Homo sapiens: one gene and its partners. The protein of the gene in region 1 purifies or fractionates together with the protein of each later gene. This does not show direct contact. Each region holds a gene or a part of one and is shown in the gene's direction. Other genes may lie near its edges.

The links. The genes of interacting proteins can lie anywhere in the genome.
Region 2: the proteins of NUMBL (region 1) and CBLN4 purify together in Homo sapiens (co-immunoprecipitation; one large-scale study listed by IntAct). This does not show direct contact.
Region 3: the proteins of NUMBL (region 1) and SLC10A4 fractionate together in Homo sapiens (co-fractionation; one large-scale study listed by BioGRID). This does not show direct contact.

Annotation. Positions count from the first base shown.
Region 1 is NC_000019.10:40,677,125-40,680,702, reverse strand, and holds part of NUMBL (numb-like protein), read left to right. Parts: intron 1-3,281; coding exon 3,282-3,471; intron 3,472-3,578. UniProt on the Homo sapiens protein: Plays a role in the process of neurogenesis. Required throughout embryonic neurogenesis to maintain neural progenitor cells, also called radial glial cells (RGCs), by allowing their daughter cells to choose progenitor over neuronal cell fate.
Region 2 is NC_000020.11:55,999,689-56,002,597, reverse strand, and holds part of CBLN4 (cerebellin-4 precursor), read left to right. Parts: intron 1-1,750; coding exon 1,751-1,867; intron 1,868-2,909. UniProt on the Homo sapiens protein: Acts as a synaptic organizer in specific subsets of neurons in the brain. Essential for the formation and maintenance of inhibitory GABAergic synapses.
Region 3 is NC_000004.12:48,486,265-48,490,026, forward strand, and holds the end of SLC10A4 (sodium/bile acid cotransporter 4), read left to right. Parts: intron 1-2,162; coding exon 2,163-2,675; 3' UTR 2,676-3,262; downstream 3,263-3,762. UniProt on the Homo sapiens protein: Transporter for bile acids.

The DNA of each region.
Region 1 (3,578 bases):
CTGGGGCGGGGGGATTGCCTGAGCTCAGGAGTTCAAGACCACCCTGGACAACATGGTAAAACCCCATCTCTACTGAAATACAAAAAATTAGCTAGGTGTGGTGGTGCACACCTGTAGTCCCAGCTACTTGGGAGGCTGAGGCAGGAGAATCACTTGAGCCCGGGAGGTGGAGGTTGCAGTGAGCCAAAATTGCACCACTGCACTCCAGCCTGGGAGACAGAGTGAGACTCCATCTCAAAAAAAAAAGAGTATTGGCCAGGCGTGGTGGCTCACGCCTGTAATCCCAACACTTTGGGAGGCCAAGGCAGGCAGATCACCTGAGGTCAGGAATTTGAGACCAGCCTGGCCAACCTGGTAAAACCCCATCTCTACTAAAAATACAAAAAAAGTAGACAGGCATGGTGGCAGGCGCCTGTGATCCCAGCTACTCCAGAGGCTGAGGTAGGAGAATCACATGTGGGGAGAATCACATGAACCCTGGAGACGGAGGTTGCAGTGAGCCAAGACTGCACCACTGCACTCCAGCCTGGGTGACAGAGCGAGACTCTGTCTCAAGAAAACAAAAAAAAAAAACTATTTGGGGATGAGAATGAAAGCCAGAAAAGAGCAGGACCATCTCCTGTGGGTAAAGAATGTGATGTTGGATGAATTCCTTCCTACTTCTGAAGGAAGTTTTAACCATTAAGCAGTAGAATTCCCCAAGTTCAACTTTTTTTTTTTCTTGAGGTGAAATTCACATAAAATTAATCATTTAAAAGTGTACAATTCAATGGCATTTAATACATTTTCAGTGTTGTTTAACCATTGACTTTAGCAGTCCTGAAACATTTTCATCACCGCTAAAGGAGACCCCATCTCCATTCATCAATTCACCCCGTCTCCCCACTACCCCAGCCCCCTGGCAACCACTAATCTGCTTTGTCTCTCTGTGGATTTACCTATTCTGGATATTTCATTTAATGGAATCATATAATATGTGTCTGGCTTCTTTACTTAGTGTAATGTTGTGTTTTTGTTTGTTTTTGAAACAGAGTTTCGCTCTTGTTACCCAGGCTGGAGTGCAATGGAGCAATCTCAGCTCACTGCAACCTCTGCCTCCCGGGTTCAAGCAATTCTCCTGTCTCAGTCTCCCAAGTAGCTGGGATTACAGACATGCACCATCACAGCTGGCTAATTTTATATTTTTAGTAGAGATGGGGTTTCTCCATGCAGGTCAGGTTGGTCTTGAACTCCCGACCTCAGGTGATCCGCCTGCCTCTGCCTCCCAAAGTGCTGGGATTATAGGTGTGAGCCACCCTGCCCGGCAATGTTTTTAATTAATTTATTTAATGACACAGCGTCTCTCTCTGTCATCAAGGCTGGTGTGCAGTGGTGCAATCTCGCCTCACTGCAACCTGGGTTCAAGCGATTCTCCCACCTCAGCTTCCTGAGTAGCTAGGACTACAGGCACACGCCACCATGCCTGGCTAATTTTTTGTAGAGATGGGATTTCGCCATGTTGCCCAGGCTGGTCTCGAACTCCTGGACTCAAGCGATCCAGTCACCTTGGCCTCCCAAAGTGCTCGGATTACAGGCGTGAGCTGCTTGTATCAGTGGTTCATTCCTTTTTTTGAGACGGAGTCTCGCTCTGTTGCCCCAGGCTGGAGTACAGTGGCACGATCTTGGCTCACTGAAACCTCCGCCTCCAACCTTCAAGTGATTCTCCTGCCACAGCCTCCCTAGTAGCTGGGATTACAGGTGCACGCCACCACACCTGGCAGATTTTTGTATTTTTAGTAGAGATGGGGTTTCACCATGTTGGCCAGGCTGGTCTCGAACTCCTGGCCTCAAGTGATTTGCCTGCCTCGGCCTCCTGGGATTACAGGTGTGAGCGACTGCAGTCACACCGTCTGATTCTTTTTGTATGTCAAATTTGTAGGCATTGGACTACTTCAGCATGCACACCATTAAGTAGAATTCGTATTTGTTTCCAGATTTTTTTTTTCTTCAAAGCGAAAGATATGATTGTCTTAGTTCAGGCTGCTATAACCAGATAGTGTAGACTGTGTGGCTTAAATGACAAACATTTGTTTGCCGCAGTTCTAGAGGCTGGATACCTGAGGTCAGGGTGTCAAATGGCTCATTTCTTGGTGAGGGCTCTTTTCCTGGTTTGCAGATGGATGCCTGCTTTCTGTATCTTCACCTCTCAAGGTGGAGGGGAGATCTCTTGTCTCTTTTTCCTTTTTAAGGGCATTAATCCCGGCCGGGCATGGTGGCTCACGCCTGTAACCCCAACACTTTGGGAGGCCCAGGTGGGCAGATCACTCGAGGTCAGGAGTTCGAGTCCAGCCTCACCAACATCATGAAATCCCATCTCTACTAAAAATACACAAATTAACCAGGTGTGGTGGCGCATGCCTATAATCCCAGCTACTTGAGAGGCTGAGGCAGGAGAATCGCTTGAAGCCGGGAGGTGGAGGTTGCAGTGAGCTGAGGTCATGCCGCTGCACTCCAGCATAGCATCAGAGTAAGACCCTGTCCCAGAAAAAAAATAAATAAATAAGGGCATTAATTCCATCATGAGGACCCCACCTCATGATCTAACATAACTTTTATTGTCTCTCAAAGGCCCACCTCCAAATACCAGCACATTGTGGATGAGGGCTTCAGCGTTAGAACTGAGAGAGACACACACGTTTAGTCTATAGCAATGCACAAGCCTTTGGTGTACAGTCAACGAATTTCGACAACTGCATACACCCATGTAACGAAACCCCTATCAATATCTAGAACATTGCCACCACCCGGTCATCCCCTCATACACTTTCCAGTCATTCCCCACCCCATAGGAAACTACCACTATTCTGACTTTTTTTTAGACAGAATCTCACTCTGTCACCCAAGCTGGAGTGCAGTTGCCCCATCATAGCTGCTTGCAGCCTTGACCTCCTGGGCTCAAGGGAACCTCCCGCCTCAGCCTCCCAAAGTGCTAGGATTACAGGCGAGAGCCACCACTCCTGGCCTGTTCTGACTTTTTTTCACCATAGAACCATAGATTAGTTTTGCCTCTTCTGGAATTTCCAGTAAGTGGAGCCACACAACAGGCTCATTGGTTTCTGGCTTCTCTCACTTGGAGCTGTCATTTCCAGCCCTTCCTTGTGGTGCAGATGAGCACTGAGGCCCAGAGAAGTGCAGAGACTCATCCGGGGCAACCCAGTACCTAGCGGCTATAACCCAGTGCCCCTGGCCCCTGTCCGCACTGCCCAGCGCCTCTAACCCCCCCGCCCATCCTCTCCCCATAGGGCGAGAGGCTGAGCCACGCTGTGGGCTGTGCTTTTGCCGCCTGCCTGGAGCGAAAACAGCGACGGGAGAAGGAATGTGGGGTCACGGCCGCCTTCGATGCCAGCCGCACCAGCTTCGCCCGCGAGGGCTCCTTCCGCCTGTCTGGGGGTGGGCGGCCTGCTGAGCGAGAGGCCCCGGACAAGAAGAAAGGTGGGTGTTGCCCCAAGCGCCAGCAGAGCACAGAGTGGGCACAGGGTACCCAGTATCAGGGGGCAGGGAGCTGCAGAGGTGCAGAGACTCAACAGTTTACAAAGTAG
Region 2 (2,909 bases), on another chromosome or scaffold:
GGGCATTGCACTATCCTCTATACAGGGTGTTCCTTTCAATGACCTTTCCATCAATTAGAAGAGGAAAAGGGTTTGTTCTTCTTTTCAGTGAGCCTTGCATCTTAGAGACAAGAACACACATTTGGTTATAAATCTCGATGTACCTGGATGCTCCAATTACAGTGTAGAGTCAACATCCAGTTTTATATGTAGCCAACACTAATCAGCTATTTTCATTATTGCTAATGAATTATGCTACTTGTATCTGAATCAGGAAGTCACCACTAAGCACCTCAAATTATTTTAATTGTGCTTGAAAAATTTCTTTGTAAAGCCTCTGCTGGGGATTATTGCACAGCTGGTGACTTGTTGAAAGACCATCTATCATCAGGTTACAAAAAAAATCTGATGCTTACTTGGAAGAAGGCGAAATCTCAGAATGAAATTATACACGTACATGTGTTTTAAGTTAGGTGTTGAGCCTGATACATCTGCTTGACTGTCACTACATTCTGGTATGTTGCCCAGAGGTAATAGTACATTTTTAGGGAATTATGCAAGAGGCTTGCAAGTGTGTTAATATTGGCAAGAATGCAGTGTTCGAAAGAGATAGTAGCAGATTGCCATTGATATATGAGAAGTATATCTTTTTAGGGACCTCTTATTATTTTTGAATGCCACTTACAGGTGTATTTCTTGGAAAGAAATGGAACAAACCCTGGTTATTTTAACATCCATCCTCCATCCCAATCCCTCTTTCTCATAGAAAGAGACTTACCCATGTGACATTGCAAATTTAGCTTAAGAGGTCACTTATTAAAATTTAGAGTTAATTTTATAACCAATAGAACTAGGCTGAATATTTTGGAATACAAAATGCATTGTTGCTTTCTTGGGAAACAGTATCTAATTTCACTTTTGAACCTTGAACTTCAAATAAAGAGCAGGTGATTGATAGGAGGTTAATGGACAGCCCGGGGAGGAACAGGGAAAGCCACCTATTTCATAGTTTAGCCTTCTCTATGCTCTCCTCTTTGGCAGCCCACAAGGGCTGACTCATTGCCACATTATTATAATTAAGGCCTAGCTGGCACAGGAATGAAAAAAAAAATGGTAACAGATCTTAGGAGAGGGGTGGTGGTGGCTCAGAGAAGGGCCAGGCATTCAGATCACTTTGTGCACCAACTGTTCAGTGTCAAGGATTATGTCACATGGTGGAGGGGGTACCCATGCCTCTGTGGTTTGTCCAGGGATGCTGCGGAGAGCTCACAGATGCTGATTGGCTGGCTTGGAAACGTCACCTCTGGACATTGCAAAGGCTTGTAGAAGGTGGGAATGTAAACACATAGCGGGTGCCTTTTATCCAACTCTCAAGGTAAAGCTAATATTTATAAGTTCTCAAATGTTAGCTCGATGTTTCCAGAGCCATTGGGCCTTGCTGGAAATTGAGACATGAATACAAAGCAGTTACTTTATTTATTCTTATATCATTTAAAAGACAGAAGAACCTTCCAGTATTCCAGTCAATTTTCCAAATCAGTTAAGAGGAAAGATACAGAACTAGATGTTTTATTTTCTATGATTTCTTAAGCTAGTTGCCAAGAATGAATGAATGAACAAAAGAAAAAAGAAAAGAAAGAAAGAGGAAGGAAGGAATGAAGGAAGGAGGGAAAGAAGGAAGAGGAGAGGAAGAGAGTGAGAGGAAGAAAATTCATTTTAGTTACAGAAGAAAATATAATAACTTATTGTTATTTATTATTTTTATTTGTAGATCCTGGTGAATGTGGGTAATTTTTTCACATTGGAGTCTGTCTTTGTAGCACCAAGAAAAGGAATTTACAGTTTCAGTTTTCACGTGATTAAAGTCTACCAGAGCCAAACTATCCAGGTGTGTGTTTTGACCTCTTCCATCCATACTCTCAACCAACTGTGCTTATCTTTAGTGGGTTATATATTTAAGTACTTATCCAAAGTTGTGTTTCCACAATAGAAATAAGCAGCCATCTTTATCATTTATTTTAAAACACTTAATTTCTAATTTTTTTCTCTTTAACATCCATTAAGACGTGACAAAAAGCGTATAGAAAAATAGAGAATTGAAGTTATTACCTTAATAACAATCAAACATTTTTTAAAAATCCATGGTTGAGTAAAAATTCAGTGACACAAATCTCTTTGTAAGATCATGCTTTCATTTAATGCATGTACAAGAATTACTTGAACTCATAAGAAAAAAACTTGTAAGACTAGTACAGCTTTACAAGTGCATACTAAATAAATAAAACACATTTGCTATTTTTTAAAATTATGAGATACAGCTAATCAGTAAGAATAAGTCTATGAAGGAGGAACTATTCAAAATACATTTTTAAAAAACGGTGTTCTATGCGTATGCTTGTGTTTATCCTCAGTTACTCTGATGCTAGTGAATTCTTACCAACTGCAGTTCCACAGTTAATATATTTTGTGTTCTGCTTTCTAAGACAATGGGCTTGACCTTACATTCAAAAGCAACAGTGGAGCTTGTTCCAACAATATTCCAGTATGCTAATACTAAATGACACAAATACATGTGCATGGAATTCTAAGATAACCTTTTATCTTATGCTCAGTATTTATGTTATACATTATGTCAATATGAATGATAGATTACATGCTTATCTATTAATACTTTTACATGTCCTAGTAAATGGATAAATGGATCAGCCTCAGATTTAATTTATTCCATATGACTTTTAACCTAAAAAAATCTAGAAAACAAACTTACTTCCATGGAAAAGTTTTCCCAACCCCCAATATTTAGAAATGTATGCAATGCTTGACACAGTGTAATCAAAATTGAAGAATAGAAAATAGTTAATACAGTTTTGAGTTGATTCTAATTATCTGTCACTGAAATCTCTAAAATTTAAAATCTAAATCTAAAATCA
Region 3 (3,762 bases), on another chromosome or scaffold:
CCATAATACACATGTATATGTGAATGTAAAAATGTATGTGTACATGTAAATATGCATATATTAATACCTGTAATATATACTCATAGATACTCTTGAGATGCATTAAGAACTTGTTAATCTTAATCATTAAGCTAATGCTATTAATGTGATGGCATTTACTATAAAACCTTAGGAAGTCTAAGAGAAAGTCAATCAAATGACCTATTTACACACCCAAAACAAGAAATATATTTAAAATAAATATATTAATAAATTAATATATTTAATATTTAAATATAATAGACATAAGATTAGCTACCTTTGAATTTAAGGTTAACCTAGCCCTATTCTTTAATTAACACACTATTAAGAAACGGTTTATATAATTGTTACACCTTTGCAAACACTTCAAAATGAGCATTCAATGTCAATGCTTGCCCAAATGATTTAAAATAGTTCTAAGGGACTTTGGAGCCAATATTTCAAAATGAAGAAATCAGACTGTTTGTCAGCGCTTTCAATGTGACATACTTTGAAATGGTATGCTTTTACATGTAATAGCCTGGTTTCTGCCAATTATGCATCTGTAGTATCTGTACCTTATATAATAATTATTGCAGCATCCTCTAGGGTAGAATTTGTGACCAGCTCAGATAAATTTTAAATAATTTTTTAAGAGTGTAGAGTTACGCCATTCCCGAAGACTGCAAAAGGGATATCCCAGCTATCCAGGGAACCAGAAGCAACATTTAAGCTGTTCTCTCTGGCTCTAGTTTCCTTTCCCTGCCCACTCCTCATTAAAAAAAAATAAGTTAACTACCAATATGAAGGAGAACGAGGAGAGGAATTTTTAGATTTCCGCCTTACAATTCATACAGACTGTTTTATTTGAATGAGTGAAATGTACCAGTCAGAACATCAAGATGACACGTTTTATACAGAAGTCAGTTGTACTGTATCCGAAATCCATCTATTGTAATAATACGTAAGCATCATTACAGACTTATAGATGGGAGGTTTCTCATGAACAAATAAAAAAGGGGAAAGTTGCCAAATTGCAAAGAATTCTTCACATATTTATTTACATTTTTCTCTCTTACATAATCTAAGAGTAGGTAATTGTTTCAATATTGCAAGCAATCCTCTGCAGTATATTTTGAGGGTTAAAAAGATCACACACTGAGCTTCAGACATTTTAATCAAGTTTCACAAGTTTTAACTCATGTAAAATGAGAACTAATTTCTTATGGAAAACACGGGGTTCAGTTCAGGGAAAGTAAACATCCACTTGTCTGCTCTGATGATCAGACCATACCTGGGGTATTAGGTTCAGTTCTAAATGCCCTGTTTTTAAGAGGCACATTCACATATGAAACACATTCTCAGAACAGTCAGGATACCAAAACAAAGTTATGTGATGGAGGTTTAAGTTTGGGGATGATCTGCCTGAAGAAGAGTAGCCTTCCCCTGATAACCAGTTTTTAAGCTTTTGAAGAGCTGTTTTTCAGGAAAAAAGCTTTTGAAGGCTATTTTTTTTTGAAGAGCTTTTTTTTTTTTTTTTTTTTTTTTTTTTTTTGGTGAAATGGAGTGTTGCTCTGTCACCCAGGCTGGAGTGCAGTGGCGCGATCTCTGCTCACTGCAACCTCCACCTCCCAGGTTCAAGCAATTCTCTGCCTCAGCATCCCGAGTAGCTGGGATTACAGGCATTCACCATCACACCTGGCTAATTTTTGTATTTTTAGTAGAGACAGTGTTTCACCATCTTGGCCAGCCTGGTCTTCAACTCCTGACCTCATGATCCACCCACCTTAGCCTCCCAAAGTGCTGGGATTACAGGTGTGAGCCACCGCGCCTGGCCAGAAAAGCTGGGTTTTTTTGTTTGTTTTTTGTTTTTGAAGAGCTGGTCTCTGTCGCTCCTGAGAGCCTATATCCAACTCAATGGCTAGAGGTTATAGAAGGCAAATTGTCCCTGGACATAAGGACAGGCCTCCAAACAATCAGAGCTGCCCAATGTGGCTCTGGATGCTTCCTGAAGAGGTGGCCTGCCCATCTTCAGAAATATTCTGTCAAAGGTCTCCATTTTGTGTTGGAGAGCATACTAGATGGGTGTTTTCTTCCGTGAGCTTAGGATTCTCTCGCCTGAGTTCATCTTCAACCATCTCATTGTAATTTTCTATTACTAGGTTTCCCTGTGGTCTCTGCTAGTGACTCTGGTGGTCCTTTTCATAATGACCGGCACTATGTTAGGACCTGAACTGCTGGCAAGTATCCCTGCAGCTGTTTATGTGATAGCAATTTTTATGCCTTTGGCAGGCTACGCTTCAGGTTATGGTTTAGCTACTCTCTTCCATCTTCCACCCAACTGCAAGAGGACTGTATGTCTGGAAACAGGTAGTCAGAATGTGCAGCTCTGTACAGCCATTCTAAAACTGGCCTTTCCACCGCAATTCATAGGAAGCATGTACATGTTTCCTTTGCTGTATGCACTTTTCCAGTCTGCAGAAGCGGGGATTTTTGTTTTAATCTATAAAATGTATGGAAGTGAAATGTTGCACAAGCGAGATCCTCTAGATGAAGATGAAGATACAGATATTTCTTATAAAAAACTAAAAGAAGAGGAAATGGCAGACACTTCCTATGGCACAGTGAAAGCAGAAAATATAATAATGATGGAAACCGCTCAGACTTCTCTCTAAATGTGGAGATACACAGGAGCTTCTATCTTGCTGAAATATTGCTTCATATTTATAGCCTGTGGTAGTGCACATGGTTAACATAAAAGATAACACTGGTTCACATCATACATGTAACAATTCTGATCTTTTTAAGGTTCACTGGTGTATTAACCAAACGTTGTCACAAATTACAAATCAATGCTGTAATATAATTTGCACCTGGAATGGCTAACGTGAAGCCTGAATTAAATGTGGTTTTTAGTTTTTACCATCACCAATTTCTATGACTGTTGCAAATACAGAATCTATTAGAAAACAGGGTCTTGGAAATGTAGAATTTTGGCGCACTATGAGGAAAAACAAGCTATCTTTGTAAAGCATAATTGAGTTTAATGTAATTGTTGTAAAAAAAAAAGTGTGCTTGCTCTACTTAAAATTCCTCACAATGTTGAATTTTGACCTGTATTCAGAAGAATTCCAAAACAGGTCAGTTAAATAAGGAAATATAGTATTTGTCAAACCAGTATCAGAGAAAAGTTACATTAATGTATTTGATTACTTGATCTGGTATCTACTTATTAATGAATAATCAACATTTTTCTAGTGGACAAGCCATGTTCTTTTCGACTGGTCTTCTGCATTTATGTAAACACACCCCAAATCAATTTATCTTTTGTAGGAATGATTTGGTTGGGAAATTTTTCAGAACCGCTCTGGAGCAGAACAAAACGGTACCTCCCGGTCACCACTGGGACTGGGGGAAGGGACACGCTCCAGGGGAGAAAACAATTCGCCTAGATGAAGATCCCTGGGTGGTTCTCCATGCACTCGCCGAGGGGGCTCAGTGGGTAGCCTCTTAGAGCAGCTCTGAGAATAAACTTATCATCTGAGTTAACGGGTAATAGACCCAGAACAGTTCCCAAACCTTGGCACTTTCGCTCACTTAGCCAGAGGCACCCGGCCTGGCCTCGGCTTCCCGGTGAGGGAGCGGGGGTGGGGGGGATGCGCAGGCACCTGGAACAATCAGGGCACCGGGAGAAGCCGGCTCAGCTGATGCCGGTGATGAGTTTCTCTCATTGAAATCCTCCTCACCTCGGGCGCCTTGGTT